4 linked regions of the Homo sapiens genome follow. The protein of the gene in region 2 purifies or fractionates together with the protein of the main gene of each other region. This does not show direct contact. Each region holds a gene or a part of one and is shown on either strand. Other genes may lie near its edges.

The links.
Region 1: the proteins of OR13J1 (region 2) and ATP2B3 purify together in Homo sapiens (affinity purification with mass spectrometry; one large-scale study listed by BioGRID and IntAct). This does not show direct contact.
Region 3: the proteins of OR13J1 (region 2) and GOLGA5 purify together in Homo sapiens (affinity purification with mass spectrometry; one large-scale study listed by BioGRID and IntAct). This does not show direct contact.
Region 4: the proteins of OR13J1 (region 2) and SARAF purify together in Homo sapiens (affinity purification with mass spectrometry; one large-scale study listed by BioGRID and IntAct). This does not show direct contact.

The regions. Positions count from the first base shown.
Region 1 is NC_000023.11:153,558,948-153,564,645, forward strand, and holds part of ATP2B3 (plasma membrane calcium-transporting ATPase 3), read left to right. Parts: intron 1-781; coding exon 782-995; intron 996-1,728; coding exon 1,729-1,940; intron 1,941-3,187; coding exon 3,188-3,295; intron 3,296-5,698. UniProt on the Homo sapiens protein: ATP-driven Ca(2+) ion pump involved in the maintenance of basal intracellular Ca(2+) levels at the presynaptic terminals. Uses ATP as an energy source to transport cytosolic Ca(2+) ions across the plasma membrane to the extracellular compartment.
Region 2 is NC_000009.12:35,866,804-35,874,428, reverse strand, and holds OR13J1 (olfactory receptor 13J1), read left to right. Parts: upstream 1-4,027; coding exon 4,028-4,966; downstream 4,967-7,625. UniProt on the Homo sapiens protein: Odorant receptor.
Region 3 is NC_000014.9:92,835,805-92,839,304, reverse strand, and holds part of GOLGA5 (golgin subfamily A member 5), read right to left. Parts: intron 1,920-3,500; coding exon 1,856-1,919; intron 1-1,855. UniProt on the Homo sapiens protein: Involved in maintaining Golgi structure. Stimulates the formation of Golgi stacks and ribbons. Involved in intra-Golgi retrograde transport.
Region 4 is NC_000008.11:30,070,806-30,079,003, reverse strand, and holds part of SARAF (store-operated calcium entry-associated regulatory factor isoform 1 precursor), read left to right. Parts: intron 1-4,948; coding exon 4,949-5,127; intron 5,128-8,198. UniProt on the Homo sapiens protein: Negative regulator of store-operated Ca(2+) entry (SOCE) involved in protecting cells from Ca(2+) overfilling.

The sequences.
Region 1 (5,698 bases), on a different chromosome or scaffold from region 2:
TTGGTGAGTGTCCAGATTTTCTTCACCCCGCCTTAGAAAGGGGGTGTTTAAATTGCCTGCTGATCAACTTGGTCTTTTCAAAACAATTTTTTAAATTGAGATAAAAAATCACATAACAAACTTCAACAGAACCATTTTAACCTTTTGAAAGTACATAACTCCGAGGTTTATATCCCTCCACTGTCTATTCCCAGAACATTCTCATCACCCCAAAAGGACACCCAGACCCCGTGAGCAGTCACTCTCTACTCCCCAAACCCCAGCCCCTGGCACCCACTCATCTGCTTTCTCTCTCTATGGATTTGTCAGTTCTGGAAGTTTCCTATGAATGGAATCAGACAGTACGTGGCCTTGTGTGTCTGGCTTCTGTGAGGCTGATTTTTAACGAACAACTCAGAGGAGCTGAGAAGGAAGGTCCAGTTCAGAGTTTCTGCCTCCTCCTGCCCCTGAGGTGCAGGAGACAAGGAGAGCAGCCCTCACTCTGTTGCCCCAAATGGCAGACCCCATCGTCGGGCTGTTTTGTGGTCTGGGGTTTTTCACCTCCTGCGAGGGATTTGGAGCACACCTGCTGCCAGGTGAGAGAAGGGAGGCGGGCACGTGACAGCCCAAAGAAAACGCCCCACTAGCGTAAAGGCGATGTAGGGATGGAGATGTCTGTTTTCATGGGCATGAAATCCTGGTGATGTGGACCCCATGAGGAGCCCCCAGGAGCTACTGGGTTTCCACCCCCAACCTTCCCGGGCAGGCGGCCCATGGAAAGGTGACTGCCTCCTCTCCATAGGACTCTCCTCTCAAAGCCGTGCAGATGTTGTGGGTGAACTTGATCATGGACACATTTGCCTCTCTGGCCCTGGCGACGGAGCCACCCACAGAGTCGCTGCTGCTGCGGAAGCCGTACGGCCGCGACAAGCCCCTCATCTCCCGCACCATGATGAAGAACATTCTGGGCCACGCCGTGTACCAGCTCGCCATCATCTTCACCCTGCTGTTTGTCGGTAGGCTGGCCAGGGGCACCCGGGAGGACTTCAGGACACTGTTGCCACCACCTCGGGCTCAGATTCTGTCTGGTGTGTCTCCACCTGTGTCTCCGCACCCAGTACGGGGTGGGACGCTGCACTTCCTGACTGGACAGCACACAGGGGAAGGAGCAGATGGGCCAGGCTAGCAACCCTGCAGCCAGGCCTGCTGGTGGCCTACAGCTCTTTCGCAAGCCTCTCCTCCCAGGCCGCTGAGCAGCTGAGAAACAGTTCATGTCTTGACATCCTGCCCACGGCTGTGTAGCTGTGTAGAGTAGGCAGCTTCTACCCAGCCCCAGAGTGGCCACGGTAACCCTAGGAACAGAACAGCCCACATTTACCCTGTGAAGATTGCTCCTGTGGAGTGACTGGGGTGCCGTGCTGGAAGCTGTGAGGTGGGTGGGGGGTGACCGCAAGAGAGAGGAAGAGGAGGAGGGCGTCCGAGGAAAGCCAGCCTTAAGAACTTCCCTTCTTAATCTCTTCCTTCCTGCCCTCAGGCTCAGGGTCTGGCCCCTGGCCCAGAGGGGTCTCAGGACTCTGGTTGGTTGAGCCTGGGGTGGGTGTGGCTGCCTTGGGCCTTGGCCGTGAGCTGGAAGTGGCCATCCCCTGGGACAAGGGACCCATCTCGGGAGCTACACACCGAAGTCTCGCTCCTGAGTAATGCGTCATGCGCTGAGATGACTGTGCCTGAGTGGGGAATGTTGCTTTCCAGGGGAGCTCTTCTTCGACATCGACAGCGGGAGGAATGCGCCCCTGCACTCGCCACCCTCAGAGCACTACACCATCATCTTCAACACGTTCGTCATGATGCAGCTCTTTAACGAGATCAACGCCCGCAAGATCCACGGCGAGAGGAACGTGTTCGACGGCATCTTCAGCAACCCCATCTTCTGCACCATCGTTTTGGGCACTTTCGGGATTCAGGTAGGAGGGGCGGCTCCACTCTTGGCCTCTGCCACTTGCAAAAAGTGGAGGTGGTGGGCTTCAAGACCCCTCGTCCACCCCTAGTACTGGCCTCCCCACCTCCACTCCCAGAAGGAGCCCCACCCCACCTGGCTTTCCTGTAGCCCCCGTCCTCTCTGCATGTCGGAGAGGGCCTTCTTCATCTTCCAAACATTGCCGGCCTTGCCCTGGGTGAGCGCGCTGGCTTCCAGAAGGGTTTCGTGAGCCCTCATCGGAACGAAGTTTTCTCACAGATGCTGGAAGGAGTCCTCCCTGGCTCCCTCTAGGTCTGCCATTCCCATTTCTAGCACTTAATTCCTTGGCATGAGGCTGCCATAACTCCAGAAGTTTCTTTTGGAGATGACCTCTGTGCCCAGTGCTGACACACTAACCTCTGCTTCCCACAGTGCTGTGGACAGGCTGGTCAGCCCCACTGTCTAGGAGGGGCTAAGTGTTCTAAAATATAGTGTATTTGTAGAAAAATTGAGGTATAGTAAGGCCAAAAGGTCAAGAGACAGTTGCCACTGAAAGACAGTTTATGACTCAGAGACCCCAAGAGGAGGACACATGCCACACCATAGGGGCCCACATGGGAGAGCGCCAGGCAGGAGGTGGGGTGTGAGAGCTGTGGACAAGAGCCTTTGCTGTGGTTCCCTCGGGGAGGAGCAGGTGAGGCAGGGCTGGTAGGCTCAGGACTGGCTAGGTTGCGTCATTGCAGCGGTTCCAGGGCATACGGGTGCTCCCTGGCTGTCTGGTACCTGGTCCTGGGTAATGAGTGCAAGGGGATAGTGGCCCGGAATGTGACAGTCCAACAGAGGACGGGGTCAGTTTGCATTTGGACAGCTTGCCCCTGCAAATTGGATGCCTCCCGAGGAGGCAGGAGGCCAAGACAAGGTGACCTCGGCAGGTTCTAGGGTCCTCCAGAATGAGGCATGTCCAGCGTGCCCGCAGGGTGGGTGTCACAGCCTCCGTCTTGCTGAAAATAGGAGCATGGTCAGTGGAGCTGGGCCCCACTCCGAGGCTGGAGTCAGTAGGTGCCTGGCACCCAGGGGCGCTGGGGGCCATGCACTGCTCTGTCATCACGCCCCCGGCCTTGTGGTCCTCTCGCAAGGAGCAGCCCGTGCAACTGGGGGAACCAACCAGGGTGGCTGGGTCTTCAAGGGGTTGGAGGACAAGGGTGGCTCAGGAGCCGCGGCTGGACCTGCCTCTCTCCCACTTGCCCTTCGCAGATTGTCATCGTCCAGTTTGGCGGGAAGCCCTTCAGCTGCTCCCCACTATCCACAGAACAGTGGCTCTGGTGCCTGTTTGTTGGTGTTGGGGAGCTGGTCTGGGGACAGGTGAGTGACAGCCCTGCCCCTCATTTCAGACTGCCCTGCAGACAGCTTCTGTGATGGGCCCACTTGCCCTAACCCTGCTTCAGAGCCTTGGGGTCCTCACCCTAGGAAGCACACTGAGGGCTCAGGCCTGTGACACACCAGGACCCAGGGACAGGACGCAAGGGAAGGTGTCAGCAAAAGAATGCAAAGGAACATGGCTGGGATGTGACAGGGCCCAGGAAAACTGCCCGCAGCTCCCCTTTCTATGATAAGAGCCAAAAATTGCCCCTTCCAATTGGGTGGGTAGCTTGGGAAATCCCCACATATTTTAAATCAATCAAACAGCACCCTGATCAATAATCCATGGGGCGAAAAGAAAGTCTCCAGAGAAATTAGGAAATATTTTGACCTGATGGAAAGGACAGAGAGTCCCACATCGAGCTCTGTGGGCTGCAGCTGAAGCCGCACACTGGCAGGTTTCTAGGACCCCACAATTAGATCAGGAAGAAACAGCCTGGGTATTTAGGATCCGCTTATCTCTGTCTTCATCAGCTCCGACTGCCATAGCAAAATACCATAGACTGGGAGGCTTAGACAACAGACACTTACTTTCTCGAAGTCCCGGAGGCTGGATATCCAAGGCCAGGGAGCCAGCGGGGCCAGTTCCTGGTGAGGGCTCCTTCCTGGCTTGCAGACAGCCGCCTCCTCACTCTGTGCTCACATGGTGGACAGAGGGAGCAAGGTCTCTGGTGTTTCCTCTCCTAGGAGCATTAATCCAGTAGGATCAGGGCCCCACCTTGGTGACCTCATTTAACCTTGATCACTTCCTTACTCCAAATCCAGCCACACTGGGCACTAGGACTTCAACACATGAACTGGAGAGCACAGTTCAGTCCATAGCATTCTGGCTTTTCCTTTTTTTTTTTTTTTTTTTTTTTGAGACAGGGTCTTGTTCTGTTGCCCAATGTGGAGTGCAGTGGTACAATCACAGCTCACTGTAGCCTCGAACTCCCAGGCTCAAGTGATCCTCCTATCTCAGCCTCCCAAGCAGCTGGGACCACAGGCACATGCCACCACACCAGGCTAAGTTTTGTATTTTTTGTAGAGATGTGTTGTGCCATGTTGCCCAGGCTGGTCTTGAACTCCTGAACTCAAGTGATCTGCCTGCCTCAGCCTCCCAAAGTGCTGGGATTACAGGCGGGAGCCACCATGCTCGGCCTGGCTTTTGTTTCTTGATCTCTGTGCCGGCCACAGGGGCTGCTGCAGCTGCTGCAGATGCCAGCCTTCTTGCTGGCCCCAGCATTAGTGTCCTCGGGGACAGCCCACCCAGTTCCTGTTTCATTTTCAGAATTCTCCTTTCCCTCTGCTACTGCACCTCACCTCCGAATCACACTTGAACCTGGTTGCTCCATGGAGTCCCTTCACTTCCCGAAACCTGGACTCTAACCACAGCCCAGAGGGGTGCCAGGCCCTCTTCTTGCTCTTCAAGCTCCCAGGCCACTGGCCTTCTGGTCCCCCCAGGAATGTGGCACCAGCCTGTAGCTCGGCCTCTCAGGGCTACTGGGTTGTCCTTTTCATTTTTAACCTTGTTCAGTTACAAAGATAAAACATGTTCAAGAGAAAAACGAAAAGAAGGGAATCTCTGTGAACCAGTCCTCAAGTCCCCTCCTGGCCATGTTCGACAAATACACTGGCATAGACACACAAGACAGACGAGACGTCTTGCTCTAGAACTCCAGATGCCCATCATCCCTTTCTGTGGCTTCCCCTGCGTCCTTCTAGACTGTTCCCCCCACTTCCCAGTGGCCTACAATATGCGAAGCCATGCCCTCTCTTTACTCCTGCCAGGCTCCTTATCCAGTCACCCTTTCCAGCTGTCACCCTCCTTGTCACCTCCCACCCTCTCTAGCCCCCAATGCACAGGTCTTCTCTAGGCTGGTGTTCCTCCAGGAGATGCCCTCTCCAGGAGAGACTAGGCCAGAGCTCCAGCTGTCCTCTCCCAGGGGAGTTGCGCAAACAGCGCCTGTGTCTCCCAGCAACGGTGTGGAGCGACATGCAGGGAGTATTGTCAACCAGGGCAGCTCACCCAGGCCCCGGTGTCCAGGGCTTTTCTTGCGGTGGTTCACAGAGCCATGCTGTGGTCACGTGGCTGGCCTCCATCTCCAGCCCTCTGGAGGTCCAGCTGTTAGTGTAGCCTACGGGGCACGGTCCCCAGCCCCCTGCCCCACTGAGCCATGCTGCTCTCAAGCAGGATGTTCCAGGGGCTTAGCGATCCCTCCCAGGAGCCCTTGCTGCACCGCGTTCCACTCGGGCCACTCCCTGGGCCCTTTGGCTGAATGGAGCTCCATGGAGGATCCGCTTATCTCTGTCTTCATCAGCTCTGACTGCCATAGCAAAATACCATAGACTGGGAGGCTTAGACAA
Region 2 (7,625 bases):
CTAAACAAATTTATAGATCACTGTTTAAAGTAAATATAGTAAGAGTGAATATTTTCAAATGTGATAAAATAGCACAAGTGGCTGGTAATAAAATTTGAAATTATAGTTAACCTCCTTGGCTGTGATCTTACGTATGTAAAGTAAAATGTAAATACATAATTAGGCCAGGTGCAGTGGCTCACACCTGTAATCCTAGCACTTTGGGAGGCCGAGGCAGTTGGATCATTTGAGATCAGAAGTTTGAGACCAGCCTAGCCAACATGGTGAAACCCCATCTCTACCAAAAATACACAAAAATTACCTGGGTATGATGGTGTGTGCTTGTGATCCCAGCTACTCGGGAGGCTGAGGTGGGAGGATCACTTGAGCCCAAAAGGCAGAAGTTGCAGTGAGCCCAGGTCACACTACTGCACCCCAGCCTGGGTATCAGAGCGAAACCCCATCTCAAAGAAAAAAAATTAAAATTAAAATAGGCTAAAGAGCCTATTTTTTTCTCCAAAGAAGATATACAAATACCCAATGAGCACTTGAAAATATGTTCAATGTCATTAGCCATTAGAGAAATGCAAATCAAAATCACAATTAGATACCACTTCACTCTTACTATGATGGTTATATATAAATATAAATTTTTTTTTTGAGACAGGGTCTCACTCTGTCACCCAGGCTGGAGTAGGGTGGTATGAACATGGCTCACAGCAGCCCTCAACCTTCTGGGCTCAAGCTATTCTCCTGCCTCAATCTCCCAAGTAGCGGAGACTACAGGCACATGCCACCATGCCCGGCTAATTTTTGTATTTTTTGTAGAGACGAGGTTTCACCATGTTGCCCGGGCTGGTCTCGAACTCCTGGTCTCAAGTGATCTGCCCACCTCGGCCTCCCAAAGTGCTGGGATTACAGGCGTGAGCCACCACACCCAACCAAGATGGCTATAATTTAAAAAGCAGATAATAACAATTGTTGGTGAGGATGTGGAGAAATTGAAACCCTCACATATTGGGGAAATGTAAAATGGGAAAGTAAAATGATACTTTCCATTTTGGAAACTGGCAGTTCCCCAAAAATATACACATAGAGTTTCTATATGACCTAGAAACTCCACTCCTAAGAAAATATCCAAGAAAAATGAAAATATACATCCACACAAAAACTTGTATGCAAATGTTCATAGCAGCACTATTCGTAACAGTCAAAAAGTGGAATCAACCCAAATGTCTATCAACTGATGAATGGGCACATAAAATGTGGTATATCCATACAACTGAATATTAATTAGCAATAAAAAGAAAGTAAGTCCTGATACATGCTACAATATAGATGAACCTTGAAAACATTAAGCTAAGTAAGAGAAACCAGTCACAAAGGGAAACATATTTTATAATTTCATTTATGTAAAATGTCCAGAATAGGCAGCTCAAAAGAGACAAAAAGTAGATTAATGGTTTCCTAAGACTGGAGGAGGTTGAGGGGAAAAGGGGAGTGATGGCTAAAGGGTATGGGCTTCCTTTGGAAGTGATAAACATGTTCTAAAATCAACTGTGGTGATACTCAAAACTATTGCATTGTACACTTTAAATTCACCCGTTGTACACTTTAAACTCACCCATTTAAAGTGTACAATGCAATAGTTTTGTATTTGAATTGTACATTTTAAATGGGTGAATTTAAATGGGCGGCTGCATGGTGTTTGAATTATAGCTCAATAAAGATGCTATTTTTAAAAAGAACTAACCATTGATTCACACAACATGGATGACTCTCAAAATAATCACGCTGAGTGAAAGAAGCCAGATTTTAAAAAGAGTACATTCTGCATAATTCCCTTTATGTAAAATGCTAGAAAATGAAAGTAATCTACAGTTACAGAGAGCAAATCAGTGGCTGCCTGGTTGGGGAAGAAAGGAATGGATTACCAAGGGGCATGAGAAAAATTGTGGGTATATTAGATAAGTTCATTATCTTGATTGTGGTCATGGTTTCATGACTGTATACATTAAAACTAATCAAATTATATGATTTAAATATAGTTGTACATCAACCATCCTTCAATAAAGCTGCAACAAAAAAGCATACTAAAAAGTCACAAGACCTATTTCCATGTATAGATATACATATGCAAATGGCCAGAAAAGTATCTGGATAGATATACACAAAACTAATAACAATAGTTACTTTTGGAAAAGTGGGAGAGTGGGAAGGGTGGGTGAGGCTGGGTATGGAAGAGTGAGGGAAGGGTGAGGCTGGGTATGGGAGAGTGGGAAGGGTGGGTGAGGCTGGGTATGGGAGAGTGGGGGGAGGGTGAGTCTGGGTATGGGAGAGTGGGAAGGGTGGGTGAGGCTGGGTATGGAAGAGTCAGGGGAGGGGGAGGCTGGGTATGGGAGGGTGGGGGAGGACAAGGATGGGTATGGGAGAGTGGGAGGGGTGGGTGAGGCTGGGTACGGAAGAGTGGGGGGACGGTGAGGCTGGGTATGGAAGACTTGGGGGTCCTCTCTGCCTAGGAAGGGTTTGCACTCAGCAGCCTGGGAGCACACCTGTCATCAGTGCTCCCTCACATCTGGCACCACCTGACATGTAGCAGGTCCTCAGTTACTTCTAGGTTCTGGGATGAGTAAGTGAGGGTGGAATAAAAGACGGAAATGGTCTCCTGCAAGGAAGGCACTGAGAGGAACTGTGCTCCACCCAGGCCCAGGATTTGGCATCGTGTCCCATGGGATTAATGACACCGTGCCAGATACCCTGGAACACTAAGGAGAGGTGACTCATGCTCTTTTGCTGGTGAGAGGATTGTGGCAGCACCTGGGGCACTGATATCCATCTAGAATGGTAAAAGAACAAGCATTGTTTGAAACCTAATAGAAGCATACACCTGCTCTGAGCATGGTATAGGGGTCACACTGTTGGGAGGGCTGGATTCTAGCTTCACCTCACCAGAGACCTGTTGTGTGACCTCAGCATCCCCATCTATACAATGGGAGATCCAACAAGTTGGCCTCTGGTCATGTTCCATGCTAATACCCTAGGAGTTCATGAAGTCAAAGCAGCCCTCGCTCTGGCCCACAGAACATAGGGGTTTGGAGCTGGGCCAAAAGCTCCATCAGATTTTAGCTGGGAAACCCACAGGAAGGCAGATTGTGAAGGTCCAATCCACACAGGGTAGCTAATGAAACAGGCCCTGGGCAGGGGACAGGGGAACATGCCCAGCGATAGGCTTCAAGGTCAGCAGCCCTCCAACACACAGCACGGTGTATGCTTTGTTCATGGATACTAGAGTAGGCCTGAAGAGACAGGTCAGACCACTGCAGGCCGAGGACATTCCAGACAGAAGGAATAGCAAATGCGATGGCTCAGAGGCTTCCTTAAAGCCAGGAGAATCTCCACCTGCTCAGAGACCACCTAGCCCACTAGTTCCTCAAAGTGTGGTACCTACATCAGCAGCAGAAGCATCGCCCAGACGCACCGAGTCAGAAACTGGGTTTGGGGCCCAACAATCTGTTTTAACAAACTTTCCAGGTGATTCTGGTGCATGTTAAAGTTTGAGAACTGTTGATCTAGCCTACTGTTTCCCAGACTATGCTCATAGAACACTTATCTGCAGTAGGTTAATGGGTTTTCTGTAAAAGGGGATCCATGATCAAATAAGTTTGGGGTACAGATGTTCTACATTGCTTTGCAGGAGTCATAGATCACATTAGCGTAGTAAACGCTCTGAGAAGTCCTGCAGTAAAGAGCTTTATTTTTTATTAATCCAATGTTGTCTCAAATTGATTTTTCAGATTGCTTACTAATGTTCTCATTAACATTCTCTCAGGGAATGCTGATCTAAATCAATGCTCATTTTTCACATGGATAAACTGAGGCCTAGAGAGGATAAAGGGATTGCCCGACGTCACAGACAGTGAGTGTGGCAGTGCTGGAAAAGATCCTGACAGTCCACCTCGTCCCAGAAAGGGCTCTGTGAGCTTCCCCGCACCCTGTACCCTCTCTCCTTCCATCCCAGCTGTGGACCATCTCTTCAGAACTCTGCAGCATGGAGCCGCTCAACAGAACAGAGGTGTCCGAGTTCTTTCTGAAAGGATTTTCTGGCTACCCAGCCCTGGAGCATCTGCTCTTCCCTCTGTGCTCAGCCATGTACCTGGTGACCCTCCTGGGGAACACAGCCATCATGGCGGTGAGCGTGCTAGATATCCACCTGCACACGCCCGTGTACTTCTTCCTGGGCAACCTCTCTACCCTGGACATCTGCTACACGCCCACCTTTGTGCCTCTGATGCTGGTCCACCTCCTGTCATCCCGGAAGACCATCTCCTTTGCTGTCTGTGCCATCCAGATGTGTCTGAGCCTGTCCACGGGCTCCACGGAGTGCCTGCTACTGGCCATCACGGCCTATGACCGCTACCTGGCCATCTGCCAGCCACTCAGGTACCACGTGCTCATGAGCCACCGGCTCTGCGTGCTGCTGATGGGAGCTGCCTGGGTCCTCTGCCTCCTCAAGTCGGTGACTGAGATGGTCATCTCCATGAGGCTGCCCTTCTGTGGCCACCACGTGGTCAGTCACTTCACCTGCAAGATCCTGGCAGTGCTGAAGCTGGCATGCGGCAACACGTCGGTCAGCGAAGACTTCCTGCTGGCGGGCTCCATCCTGCTGCTGCCTGTACCCCTGGCATTCATCTGCCTGTCCTACTTGCTCATCCTGGCCACCATCCTGAGGGTGCCCTCGGCCGCCAGGTGCTGCAAAGCCTTCTCCACCTGCTTGGCACACCTGGCTGTAGTGCTGCTTTTCTACGGCACCATCATCTTCATGTACTTGAAGCCCAAGAGTAAGGAAGCCCACATCTCTGATGAGGTCTTCACAGTCCTCTATGCCATGGTCACGACCATGCTGAACCCCACCATCTACAGCCTGAGGAACAAGGAGGTGAAGGAGGCCGCCAGGAAGGTGTGGGGCAGGAGTCGGGCCTCCAGGTGAGGGAGGGCGGGGCTCTGTACAGACGCAGGTCTCAGGTTAGTAGCTGAGGCCATCGTATGCCAATGCCAGTGAAGACATGGCAGGGCTGGGGCTACAGGTCTGGTATCTTCATCCCAGCAAGGCAGCACCAAGTCCCGCTGATCCTGCCACAGAACAGCCCCCAAATCACCCTCTGCTCTCAGCATCACCCTGGCCTTCACACCAGCCTCCTGGCTGGTCCCAAGACTTCAGTCCTGTTCCTCCCTCCAATCTCTCCTTCATGGGGCATCTTTTTGAAATGCACATGTGATTGCATCACTCTTCTCACTGAAATCCCTAGGTGGCTCCCCACTGTTCTCAGAACAAAGTGGAAGCTTTTCAGTGGGGCATTTGAGGCCCTCACAAGCTGGCCCTGCCTGACTGGCTCCCCAGCCTTCCTCCCCTCCCACCCCATCTCCCTCCTCACAGCCACACACACCAGCCAGTTGTGGCCCCCACATGCCCTGCACCACCCAGCTCTGTGCTCTCCTTGTTTCTCCCCACGAGGCAGCACCCCCTCCCCTATCCCCAGCACACTTCTCCATATGTAAAAGGACTGACTGCCTGACCCTTCAGGCCCAGCTCAAATGCCACCTCCACCAGGAAGCCACCCCACCTTGCTCCTCTTGCTGTGCCCCTCTGTGTTTTCAGCATTACTCCAAGAGCAGGGAGTGTCAGATTCTACTCTCTCCCAAGGTCCAGCCTTGCCCAACTCTAGGCCCTGCACAAGTTTCTTAAATAGAGATATTAACATGTCAATGTAGGGGTGACAATGGCAGAGCCTAGAGTTCTTCCCAAAACTGAGCAGAGCTGAGACGGAGTCCACAGATGACGAGAATGGCCCAGCTTCCCTGGTAGGTGACAGTAGAGGCAGCAATGAGGCCTGTATTAGTCAGGGTTCTCTTAGAGGGACAGAACTAATAGGATAGAGGAGTTTATTAAGTATTAACTTACACGATCACAAGGTTCCACAATAGGCTGAGGAGCAAGGAGAACCAGTCCGAGTCCCCAGACTGAAGAACTTGGAGTCCATTGTTCAAGGGACGGAAACATCCAGCATGGGAGAAAGATGTAGGCTCGGAGGCTAGGCCCGTCTCTCCTTTTCACGTTTTTCTGCCTGCTTTATATTCACTGGAAACTGATTAGATCATGCCCACCAGATTAGGGTGGATCTGCCTTCCCCAGCCCACTGACTCAAATGTGAATCTCTTTTGGCAACACCCACACAGAACACACCCAGGATTCATACTTTGTATCCCACGATCCAAAGAAGTTGACACTCAGTATTAACCATCACAAGGCCCAAAGTCCAAGATTCCCAGACCTGTCAGGCCCTGGGACACCAATCATCCAGCCCAAAGCCTGAAGCCACCCCATTCCTCCCACCTCACCCCGCCCAGCAGCAACAGCAGCAGCAGCAGCTTCCAGTGCTCCCTTTCTTGGGATCCAGGCCTCACCTGGCTTGAGGAAGCTTGTTTTACCCATCCTCACCTCATGCCCTGGGACCCTGCCATAGTTGCCCCTGCCTGGTGCTCAGCCTCTTCCAGCTTTTCTTTCTGATAACTCAGTGCACAGGCAGTGGACACTGACCTAGATTCACGGAGCATTTCCATTCCCTGCCTTGCCCTGGCCTCCATGGTACCATCTGTACGATGGGAGCACTGGGCTTGCCCTGCAAGCAGCAGTCCACCTTTCCTGCCCCCGGCTACAGGTAAGCACAGCCCCTGCATGAGGCCTGAATTCCCCTCCCAGGGCTTTCTCCCTGCTTCCTCTGCTGGCCAGAACAGAGGCACAGAGAAGCATGGCTAGAGGAGTGAGAGATACCCAAGCCTCTCTGACCACGCCTGAGAGAAGGCTGCCAGTAGCCATGCCAGTGGCCATGCCATTCTGCTGGGCCATGGATACATCACAGAGGTTTGGGTTTTATTCTGTGGGCTCTGGGGGTTTACAATCAGATTGACTTTTAGCAAGGTCACTGATTAGATACCATTCTCTCTCTTGTTTAACACAATGTCCACTGTTAGGTACCATGTGGTGAAGTAGGCAGTGTCATACACTGCTGGTGGAAATGGGGATAATTTAATATGAACTTCCTAGAAAGTAAGTTGGAAATATGAATCAAGGGCCTTCAAAACTTCCAGACCCCTTGACCCAACACCTCTACTTCTAGGAATCCAGTCTAAGTAAATAATAAAGGGCACAAAGATTTGGACATAAGGATATTAATAACAGCATTATTTGTAGTAACAAAAAAACTGTAATAATCTTAATGTTCAACCATAGAAGAATATTTAAACAAATCCCGGTGGAGTCCAATGACAGTATGTGATGCAGCCGTTAAGAATCTGTTTTTTTTTTTTTTTTTTCAAGACAGGGTCTCACTCTGTTACCCAGGCTGGAATGTAGTGGTACAATCTTGGCTCACCGCAGCCTCAACTTCCTGGGCCCAAGCAATTCTCCCACCTCAGCCGTCTGAGGAGCTGGGACTACATGCATGTGCCACCACGTCCAGCTAATTTATTTTTAATAGAGACGAGGTCTCGCTATGTTGCCCAGGCTGGTCTTGAACTCCTGGGCTCAACCGATCCTCCCAACTCGGTCTCCCAAAGTGCTGGGATTACAGGCATGAGCCACCATGCCT
Region 3 (3,500 bases), on a different chromosome or scaffold from region 2:
TGTACACTGAGGGCAGGCACTGTGTCTTACCTGCCTCTGTATCCCCTATGGGACACATGAAGGAATGAATGAAACAACTAAATGAGCTCAGTGCAATGGAAGGTAATAAAGACTTGCTACTCCTACAGAATTCAGTTGAGAGGAGTCAGCTCTGAACTTCAACACATTCACAATATGCACGTGTATGCAAAATAATCAGTTGATTATAATGCAGAGTGATTAAAACTGCTAGATACACATGAAGTTGGTTAGAAAACACTTTTAGAACAGTTATAGTTGGTATTCTGAAAGAGAGTTTAACCAATGTTCGGTGAAGAAGAGATGGGAAAATATTCTAGACAGAAATAATGTGTCGTTTCAGAGGCTGATGTAGGGCCCAGAACACGATTCATAGTGACAAATTTAATTCCCTCATGGTAGTACCGAAATGATACGAGATTCCATCACTAAGTGCCTCACCACTTTGTCGTGTGCCAGAAATCACATCTCATGGGCACCATCTCATGACAGTGCCCGTGTTACTCATCATCACTAACACCTGGGAAATCAACCCCTCTGGGGCATATTCTGAATGCTTTCTGATGCCATTCAATTTTTTTTTGTACTCCCCACGCTTTCCTTCTTAAAAACTTGTTATTATGCCAGGTGCAGTGGCTCACACCTGTAATCCCAGCACTTTGGGAGGCCGAAGAGGGCGGATTACTCAAGGTCAGGAGTTTGAGACCAGCTTGGCCAACATAGTGAAAACCCATCTCCCAAACACAGAAAAATTCGCTAGGTGCAGTGGCGTGCGCCTGTAGCCCCAGGTACTCGGCAGGCTGAGGCAGGAGAATCGCTTGAACCTGGGAGGTGGAGAATGCAGTGAGCCAAGATCATGCCACTGCACTCCAGCCTGGGTGACAGAGCGAGACTCAGTCTCAGAAAAAAAAAACAACACAAAACCTGTATTTAAAGGAATAACTCTTCCCTCTAGTGGATCACAGAGAAATTTCTTTTTAAAGAAATTTCTTTTCAAGAAAACAGCCCATTTTCATTCAACCCAACTACTTTTAGACATACCCACTCCAAATAGTTAGCAGCCTTTTTAGGCACACGGTACATGCGAAATGGCATCCCAAACTACCGTAACCATTTTACTAGAGGTAAGAAATCTGGGAGAAAGTAAATCAATCTTGAGGCTCTTTTAGAAAATAAAGCAAAACACATGAAAACAATTAAAGCAACTTTACAACGTCAAGATAAAAAATTGTTTTGTATTCAAATTGTTTTTATCATTAGAAGGGCTTTAAAATGGAGGTAACTATTAGACTGCGTTTAATTTTATTTGTAGGAAAAGCCTTTGAGGAATTTATATTCTAGACATAATGAATTGTCAATTTATACTCTACCAAAAGAAATCTTAATTACTAAAACTGAGTTCTCTCTTTCCAAACTGTCTGCTGGCTGGGTGCGTTGGCGCATTCCTGAAATCCCAGCACTCTGAGAGGCCAAGGTGGGAGGATCACTCGAGCCCAGAAGTTTGAGACTATCCTGGGCAACATGGTGAAACCCTGTCTCTACAAAAAATACAAATATTAGCTGGGCATGGTGGTGCACGCCTGTAGTCCCAGCTACTTGGGAGGCAAAGGTGGGAGGATGGCTTGAGCCTGGGAGGTAGAGGCTGCAGTGAGCCAAGACTGCACCACTGAACTCCAGCCTCAGCAAAAGAGCCAGACCCTGTTTCAAAAAAAACAAAAAAAAATTGATTGATTGCTAAAATATCAATAAGATCTGTAGCCAAAACAAACAAACAAACAAAAAAAAAAACTAGTTAAAAATCAAGTGCATCATTGTTTTTTCAAATAAATTTACTTACCATATATATAATTACAAAAACTCGCGCTATGGGGTATCTTCGGAGAAAAATTCCCAGGCGAATACTGTGCAGACACAGGTGTGAGGGGGAGAGGAGAGAGAAGAGTCACAGTCAAAACAAATCTTCCTGTGGTAATATCTAATGATGCTGATAAATTTAACTCATTTAAACTATTTATGTGGCTACCACAGAAGAACAATTTTTATAGCAGACTGTTAAATGATTACTTGAAATAATAATATAAAAATGTCATAGAGGTAAATAAATGCTTTTATCATTATTTGGGGCTTGGCTGTTAAACTTCAGCACAGGTATTTCTCTTAATTCTACAGCCACAACTGTAGGAGGCAAACTTGATCCCTAATTTTTTTTTTTTTTGAGACGGAGTTTCTCTCCTGTCGCCCAGGCTGGAGTGCAATGGCGCGATCTCTGCCCACGGCAACCTCTGCTTCCTGGGTTCAAGCAATTCTCCAGCTTCAGCCTCCCGAGTAGCTGGGATTACAGGTGCGCCACTACCACCACGCCTGGCTAATTTTTTTGTATTTTTAGTAGAGACGGGGTTTCGCCATGTTGGCCAGGCTGATTTCAAACTCCTGACCTCAGGTGATCCGCCTGCCTCAGCCTCCCCAAAGTGCTGGGATTACAGGTGTGAGCCACCGTGCCCGGCCTAAATCTTTTTTTAGTGGAATTACAGAAGTTACGAAAGATTAGGTGGGTGTCAACTATGTGACTGGGGAAAAAAAGAGTCTGGTTGGCATTAACCTGCAAATAGCTAATCTAGAAGCTTTTGTATAGATACATGCTTCTAAAAGGTACAAAGCTATAAACTCATGCATTTGAATAAATAGTGTGGAAGCAATATGATGTCCAGATCTATTATGCCTCTGCAACATTTTTTTCCCTATCAAGACAGATACATGCAGAAGCAATACCCCTTTCTGCTTCTTTCATTGCCACTAGCACAATGTCTTGCACTTAGGTTCTCTAACAACTACGTATGTTGAATAAATGAATAGTTGAACTAGATGTGCTTAATTTGGACATAATGGCTATGGCATCCTAGTTCTGAGGCTTCAGTCATCTTGGTATATCATTCTTATTTTTAATACAATAGCTCAATTCTGACACAAAAAGGTACAAAAAGATTATTATGCCACAATTCATTAAAACTTTTCATTATAAACACTACAAAGAAAAAGGGTACAGTAGGTTATTTAGACAAGAACCTTATCAATGCTATATGTAAACTATTAAAATATTTTTTTGATAAGGCAGATGTCTGCTAATATAAAAAATTTACATATACATAAACATAAATTTTGTTATTTATATAAAATATATAATACAATGAGTGCTGTTCAGCTATATATAGTAGCATCTTTTATTCTAATAGCATGATAAAATTCTGGGATAAAACATTCAAATGGATACTTTTACATGAAGTAGAGGCTTTCTCAATAAAATTTAATGAAGTTTTTAAAAATAGAATTTATTATAGAAAAAAGAGATACAGTCAGGGTTAATCATCTTCAATAAAATGTAGGCATTGGCAGACCTCTTGACATAATTTCTGACATGATATTTCAAATATCATGAAAGAAGTCACTTCATGAAAGTGTAATATAACTGTGAAATAAATAAAAGT
Region 4 (8,198 bases), on a different chromosome or scaffold from region 2:
TGTATTATTAGTAGAGATGGGGTTTCACCATGTTGTCCAGGCTGATCTCGAACTCCTGACCTTAGGTGATCTGCCCTCCTTGGCCTCCCAAAGTGCTGGGGTTACAGACGTGAGCCACCGTGCCTGGCTGATGATAATAATTTTATAGTAACCTTTACTATCTGGTAACCTATGTGTTCTTTTTCAAAAAAAAATTGTCCACAGGACCTTTAACATAATTTCTTTCCCCAAAAAACCCTATTGGGTTCCTGGTTGGAAGTATATTTAGGTCTCTCTCTCTATATATATTTTTTATATAGATAGGGTATTGACCTTAAGTTTATTAGATTGATTAGATTCATATTAAATACTTGTGGGAAATACATCATAGGAGATGTTGTAACATCAGTTTGTTCCACCATTAGCAAAGCGATGGTTGGCAAACCCAGCCAGACTTTTTCCTTTAGAGTTTTTGAATATATTTCTCCATTTTCTTTTTCTATCCTGTTGAGATACCTGAAGCTTTTCTAAGTCTTATCTTTTCTATATGGCTTGTTTTCTCCCTATTCTTCTGGCAATTTGTAGAATCTTTTTTTGTCTTCAGTGTTCTAAAATTTACTTTTCGTGTGCCTTTGTGTGGTCTGTTTCTCAGGCCTGGGTATTTGTTGGGCCCTTTCAGTATGACAACTCAAGTCCTTCAGTGTGGGAACTTTTCTTGAATTACAGCCTGGAGTTTGTCTAATCAGATTCCCTTGTTCATTCTTTCAGAAGCCCTTGTTGGATTTTTGGACTTTCTGAACTGGTCCTGAACTGGTAATTTTCTTTCTTTCTTTTTTTTTTTTTTCCTCCTACTGTCTTTTTTCTTTCTTTCTTTTTTTTTTTTTTGAGACGGAGTCTAGCTCTGTCCCCCAGGCTGGAGTGCAGTGGCACCATCTCGGCTCGCTGCAACCTCTGCTTCCCGGGTTCAAGCGATTCTCCTGTCTCATCTTCCTGAGTAGCTGGGATTACAGGTGCCCGCCACCATGCCTGGCTAATTTTTGTATTTTTAGTAGAGACGGGGTTTCACCATATTTGCCAGACTGGTCTCGAACTCCTGACCTTGTGATCTGCCTGCCTCGGCCACCCAAAGTGCTGGGATTACACACGTGAGCCACTGTGCCCAGCCTTTCTCTCCTACTTTCTATCTTTTTGCTCTACTTTCTTTTTTCTTTTTCCTTTTTTTTTCAGATGGAGCCTTGCTCTATCGCCAGGCTGGAGTGCAGTGGCACAATCTTGGCTCACTGCAACCTCTGCTTCCTGGGTTTAAGCAATTCTCCTGCCTCAGCCCCCCGAGTAGCTGGGACTACAGGCACGCGCCACCATCCCCAGCTAATTTTTGTATTTTTAGTAGAGCCGGGGTTTCACCGTGTTCGCCAGGATGGTCTTGATCTCTTGACCTCGTGATCCACCTGCCTCGGCCTCCCAAAGTGCTAGGATTACAGGCATGAGCCACCACGCCCGGCCTCTTTTTGCTCTACTTTCTAGAAGATTTTCTTTTAACAGTTCTGTCGTATGTATGTATTTATTTATTTATGTTTTGTGACAGGGTCTCACTCTATCACCCAGGCTGGAGTGCATGGCTCACTGCAGCCTCGACCTCCCCAGGCTCAGGTGATTCTCCCACCTCAGCCTTCTAAGTAGCTGGGACTGCAGGTGTGTGCCACCATACCTGGCTAATGTTATAATTTTTTTTGTAGAGACAGGGTTTTGCCATGTTGCTTAGGCTGGTCTTAAACTCTTGGGCTCAAGTGATCTGCTTGCCTTGGCCTCCCAAAGTGCTGGGATTACAGGCATGAGCCACTGCACCTGGCAGTTCTGTTGTTTTTAATCTTGGCTGTCCTGTTTTTAATTTCCAAAAGCTCTTGTTTTTTCTCTGAGTATCCCTTTTAAAAATGATTGTTTTATTAACGCAGTCTTTTTCTCTTATCTCTCTGAGGATATTACAGTGTTTTTAAAAAAGTTTTCTTCTTGTGCGTCATCTCTTTTTTCCTCCTGCTTCCTTTTGTTGTTGTTTTGTCCTGGTTGCTGTATTTCATGTTAGGGGCTGTTTTGTCTGTTTAATGTTACTGTAACACAATACCACAGACTGGGAAATTTATTAAAAAACTGAATTCATTTCTCACAGTTCTGGAGGCTGAGAAGTTCAATATTAAGGTGCTAGCATCTGGTGAGGGCCTTCTTGCTGTGTCATCCCATGGTGGAAGGCAGAAGGGAGAGAGTGAGAGAGGGGAAAGGGGCCTAACTCATCCTTTTATCAGGAGTCCACTCCTGCGATAACTAACCCAGTCCTGCAAGAACAGCATTAATCTATTCATGAGGGCAGAGCCCTCTTAAAGATTCCATCTTTCAACACTGTTGCATTGGGGATTAAGTTTCCAACATGTGAACTTTGGGGGACACATTCAAACCATAGCAGGGACTTTCCTCATATTTTTAGTAATCCTTGGCTCCCTGCTCATGGTTAATTCTGGGGAACCAAAAAGCTCATTGGAAGCTATCAGTGTGCAGTTGCACTTTTGATTTTGAACTTCACAACAGGGTGACCTAGGTTGCTCTTTTTTGGAGGAAGTTCCTGATGTCAGTGTATTTAGGTACTTCTTCTTGGTTAGATTACCAAGGGAATAGTCATCCAGTCTCCCACAGAGGACAAGGGGATGGCTGTTAGCATTTTGTGCACCATGTGGGGAAGGAGAACTGTGCTTTCAGCAGTCAGAGTGCACACAGTCACTTGGGTTCCCTGTTTGGTTGTTTTTGTCCCCATGCCCTTTACTATGCCAGATGGTCCCCAATGCAAATCCCTTCAGTTTTATCCTCTCCAGAGAATACATCTCCAGACAGTTTCCTTAGTGGGGAAGAGGGAGTTAGAACAGTGTGGAGTTGGGGAGAGGATCTGGGAATATGGCTTCCTCTCAAGTAGCTTTCACCCTGTAGTGTGTATTCCAGGCATCTCCCATTCCAGAGCTGCCATTTCCCGTTTTTTGTTTTTTTTTTTTTGTTTTTTTTTAGGGATTCTGTTATGTACATCAGGTTGATTCTCAGTTTCCCCCTTTGCTGTTCTGGCATTTGTCTTTCACTTAGGTCTAGTCATCTACCACTAGTCCATTTACTTTCTCCTTCCAAAATTCTGCTGTCATCTCCTCTTTCGTTTTACCTGACCACAGTCATTCACATCATCAAAACAATGTATTTATTATAGTTTTAGTAGAATTTTGGGAGGCTGCAAATTCTGCTAATCTGACAGGTTGAATATAGGGAATTGGGTACTCACAAAATGGTAGAAAGCGATGCCTATTACATCTGCCACATTGAAAAATAGATTGTTCATGTCAAGCTTCATGACAGCCAGGAAGCTGATTAGAGGATACTATCAGTTTGAAAACTCATGGTCTCCATGCCTGTGTTTACTAGCTGAAGGACAGAGCACTGTATAAGTCTAGGGTCTGCTTTCCAGATTTTGCTCGAGTCCCTCTGGTTGGCAGAACTGAAATTGCTTTTGGCAACTATAGCTGCAAGAGGTTTTGGGATTCCTTTTGCTTTGCAGGAAGGCATACCTGTTTGAGGGTGAAGTGGATGTTGACTGAGCCAATCCACAGCATCTTCCATCAATAATCCACAACATGATAAATAGGAAGACTTTGTCCTTATTTTCCAATAATGCATAGAAATTCATTTTTTTTTTTTTTTTGAGATGGAGTTTCATTCTTGTTGCCTAGGCTGGAGTGCAATGGTGTGATCTTGGCTCACTGCAACCTCCTCCTCCCAGGTTCAAGCGATTCTCCTGCCTCACCCTCCCAAGTAGCTGGGATTACAGGCATGTGCCACCACTCCCGGCTAATTTTGTATATTTAGTAGAGATGGGGTTTCGCCGTGTTGGCTAGGCTGGTCTCGAACTCCTGAGCTCAGGTGATCCACGTGCCTCGGCCTCCCAAAGTGCTGGGATTACAGGTGTGAGCCACCACACCCAACCTAAAAATTTCATTTTTGCACATGAATGCCAGACATAATTTTATTGTTTTGACTCCTCCTTTCAAAGTCTCTTGTCAGTATGTTTTAAATTTTTTAGTTTGTGAAATAGTTTAAATAGTTTTGATTTTTAAAATTATGAAATACCTAAAGTATTTAAACATACAGAAGTGTACAATGAACCTACACATAGTCATCACCCAGTTTTATTGAATCTTTATATTTTGCCATATTTGCTACAAATCCCCCACTCCCAGTAATAAAACATTAGGAATAGAGCTAAAATCTCTTTTCTTTCTCTCTCCCTAGACTAGATACTTATTTGAATTTGGTGTTAAATCCTTCCCATACATGTTTTCATGTTGTTATTATATACATATATAGACATTAACAGTATGTAGTACTGTTTTGCCTTTTTTAAAGGTTTATGTAAAGCTGTCATACAAAACATTCTGCAACTTGTATTTTGTTTAAAATGTTTTTGCCATCTATCTAGTTTGATACATGAATTCTAGTTCACTCATTTTAACTGCTATGTAATATTCCACTGTAATAGGTCAGAATGTGTTAATTTCTTCACCTGTTGATGGACATTTAAAGCATTAAATGTGCTTCAGGAACATGCTTATATTCTTGCCATTTTAATTAACCACTATTATTATTACACAGTAGTACAATGTTTCAGGTTAATGAACTTTTTGTTCTTTTGATTTAGCAAAAATGATGTACAACTTGTGCTGTAGAAGCATCTGGCCTGAAATGCAGGGAGATCTTAAAAGTGTGACCTGAATTTTGTTCAGAAGGCCTGAATGTTGTTGGGATAGTTTTGAGAAATAGATTCATCCTCTCTTAGCCATCCTCAGAAGGCAAGAAAGGCATTTCCTATGACGAGAGTTTCGTTAGGATGAACCTTTCTTTCTCTGACACGATACTTACTTTGTGTTCCTCTGTTTTCTTGCTGTTTCAGACAGAATGTTGCTGCGGGATGTAAAAGCTCTTACCCTCCACTATGACCGCTATACCACCTCCCGCAGGCTGGATCCCATCCCACAGTTGAAATGTGTTGGAGGCACAGCTGGTTGTGATTCTTATACCCCAAAAGTCATACAGTGTCAGAACAAAGGCTGGGATGGGTATGATGTACAGGTAATATCCACTACAGTAATGGCAGTCTAAATGGGGTTTTTATTCAGTAAATTGTTTATTGGGACATTATTCAGTCTTTTGAGGGTGCACCTACGGAAATCTCAGATCAGCCTAAAATATGTAAGTAAATCAATCACTCTTCCTGTGGAAGAAATGGCCTCCAAAAGAAATGAACTGATTTTAAAGCCTGAAAATACTCATTTTAGTTTTTGTATCGTGACCTCCTTCTAAGATATTTGTAAATTTTCACAACTTTTTATATACTTGAGGGTGAGGGATAGGGGATATCTTATGGTTGTCATTTTCCTGTCGTTCCTCAAAGAATACCAACCTACCCTTAAGACAAAGTTAAGATAATTAGGAATTATAGATCGTAAATAGTAGGGGTTCATATATCTCTATTGTGCTTCTAGCACTTGATTTTAAAATTGTCTTAGAACTGAGGGTGGTTACTTTTGAAAGGAAGCATTTCGGCAGGTTTCATTGATTGCCTTTGGGACGCTGGTGTTTTGTATACGAGCAGAGCATCTCCTTGAAGTTCCAAAACTGAATATGCTTTAGAGATAGATTTTATTAAATGAATTCAGTTTAAATCACTAGTTACATATTTCTACTTTGTATTCTGACTGCTTTCAAAATTGATTTAAGACGACTGGTCACAAGGCAAGAAACTTATGTTGACGATTTCCCCTCTCCATCAGAATGATATTCTTGTTTGATACAACCTTTATGCGTGGTCTTTGCAATTCAGAGAGGAAGTTGATGTGTACTGGGTGATACTTACTTCACAATATTTTCCCCCAGTACTGCTAAGTTGAATCATAGAATTCTCTGGGTTATAGCAGAAGTCTCACTCCACTTTACTTATGACTTTTAGAGTCTTGATGGGAAAAAAAGGCAGTAATGGTGATGTCATTCATTAAGCATGTATTAATTGCAATATACAAAAATGAATAAGGTAGAATGAAGAAACTGTCTTACTAGTAGAAGAGGTAAGACAGGCACTCAGATTACATGTAGGTCCCAACACAACATTATAAAGTCACGTCTGGTTGGAGCCATTGGGACTTAAAGGATGAGACATTTGTGCTGTGTTAGGAAGGAATGATAACATTTTTAGAGAGGAAAGGCTAGAGAAGGGAATAGCATGAGCAAAGGAGTGTTGAGCATATCATACATTGGCTTATGTTTAGTAGCAGGAGAGAGGCCATTTAGTAGCAGGACAGAAACTCCTTCTATTCCAAGAGTTGAAATTTAAATACAGTACTTAGAAGCTACTTGTAAGTACGCATGATTAAGGAAGTGGTAGTTAACATGAAATACCAATACAAGTTTAGCTTGTTTTATTTACCTAAGTCAACAAACCTATGAATCTTCCTCCAAATAAAATTATTTTAAAAACAGTGTAGTAACAGCAACAAAAGAAAAACTGCATCTTATCCAAATGAAAAACTTTTGACTATCAAAGGACATCATCAAGAAAGTGAAAAGACAACCTACAGAATGGGAGGAAGCTTAGCAAATCATAATTGGTGAGGGACTTGTATTTAGAATATAAAATAACTCTTACAACTCAGTAAGAAAACAACCAAGGTAAAAATGGCAGAGCATCTGAATAGACATTTCTACAAGGAAGATATATAAGTAATAAATAAGCACATGAAAAGTGTTCCTTATTATTAGCCATCAGAGAAATGCAAATCAAAGCCACAGTAAGATACCACTTCACACTCAGTAGGAAGGCTATAATAAAAAAGATAACAAGGCTGGTGAGGATGTCGAGAAATTGGAACCCTCATACACTGCTGTTGGGAATGTGAAATGGTCCAGCTGCTTTGGAAAATTGGCAGTTCCTCAAAAGTTTAAATGTAGAGTTACCATGTATGCCTCAGTCATTCCACTCCAAGGTATATACACCCAAGAGAATTGAAAACACATGTCCACACAAAAACTTGCATACAAATATACATAGCAGCATTATTCATAATAGCCAAAAAGTAGAAACAATTCAAATGTCCATTACTAATGAACGATAAATAAAAGTGGTATATCCATGCAAAGAAATATTATTTAGCCATAAAAAAGTGAAATAGTAATACATGCTACAACGTGGATGAATCTTGAAAATGTTATGCTAAGTGAAAGAAGCCAGTCACAAAAGACCACATATTGTATTATTACATTCCTGTGAACTGTCCATTTAGGGAAATCCATATAGACAGAAAGTTGGTTGGGAGGTGTGCGGCGGGAGAATGGAGAGTGACTGCTAATGGGCACAATATTTCTTTGGGGTGACGAAAATATTCTAAAATTGATTGTGGTGACAGTAGCACAACTGTGAATATACTAAAACCATTGAAATGGGTGAATTGTATGGTATGTGTGAATTATATTTCAATAAGGCTATTATAAATGAAGTAAAATAGTGTGAACTTTGAAAGAGGAAAATAATTTGTACAAAAATTTGCAGAAGGGCAACAGAACCAATTAAATCTACTTTAGCTTGTGTCTTTTTTCATTTTTTTTGAGACGGAGTCTCCCTCTGTCACCCAGTCTGGAGTACAGTGCAGTGACATGATCTTGGCTCACTGCAACCTCTGCCTCTGGGTTCAAGTCGTTCTCCTGCCTCAGCCTCTATTTTTGAAGTAGCTGGGATTACAGGCGCCTGCCACCATGCCCACCTCATTTTTGTATTTTTCGTAGAGATGGGGTTTTGCCATTTTGGCCAGGCTGTTCTTGAACTCCTGACCTCAGGTGATCCGCCCACCTTGGCCTCCCAAAGTGCTGGGATTACAAGCATGAACCACCGCGCCTGGCCTTTAGCTTGTATCTTAAGAGTTAAAGAAGCATATTGCTTTTTCCACCACAAAATATAGAATCTAGACCAAACTTGGGCATATATTTTTTTATAAGGTGGACATTTTTGGGGCTAGCCTGGGTTCTTTTTGCATTTTTCTAAATATCTTTAAAAAATACAAGAGAATTACATAGAATTGGACCTTGGAAAGTTAGTCCATGGTTTTATAAAATTTGTGTAGAAAAGTTTTTTTCTCTGAAGGTTATGTAATATC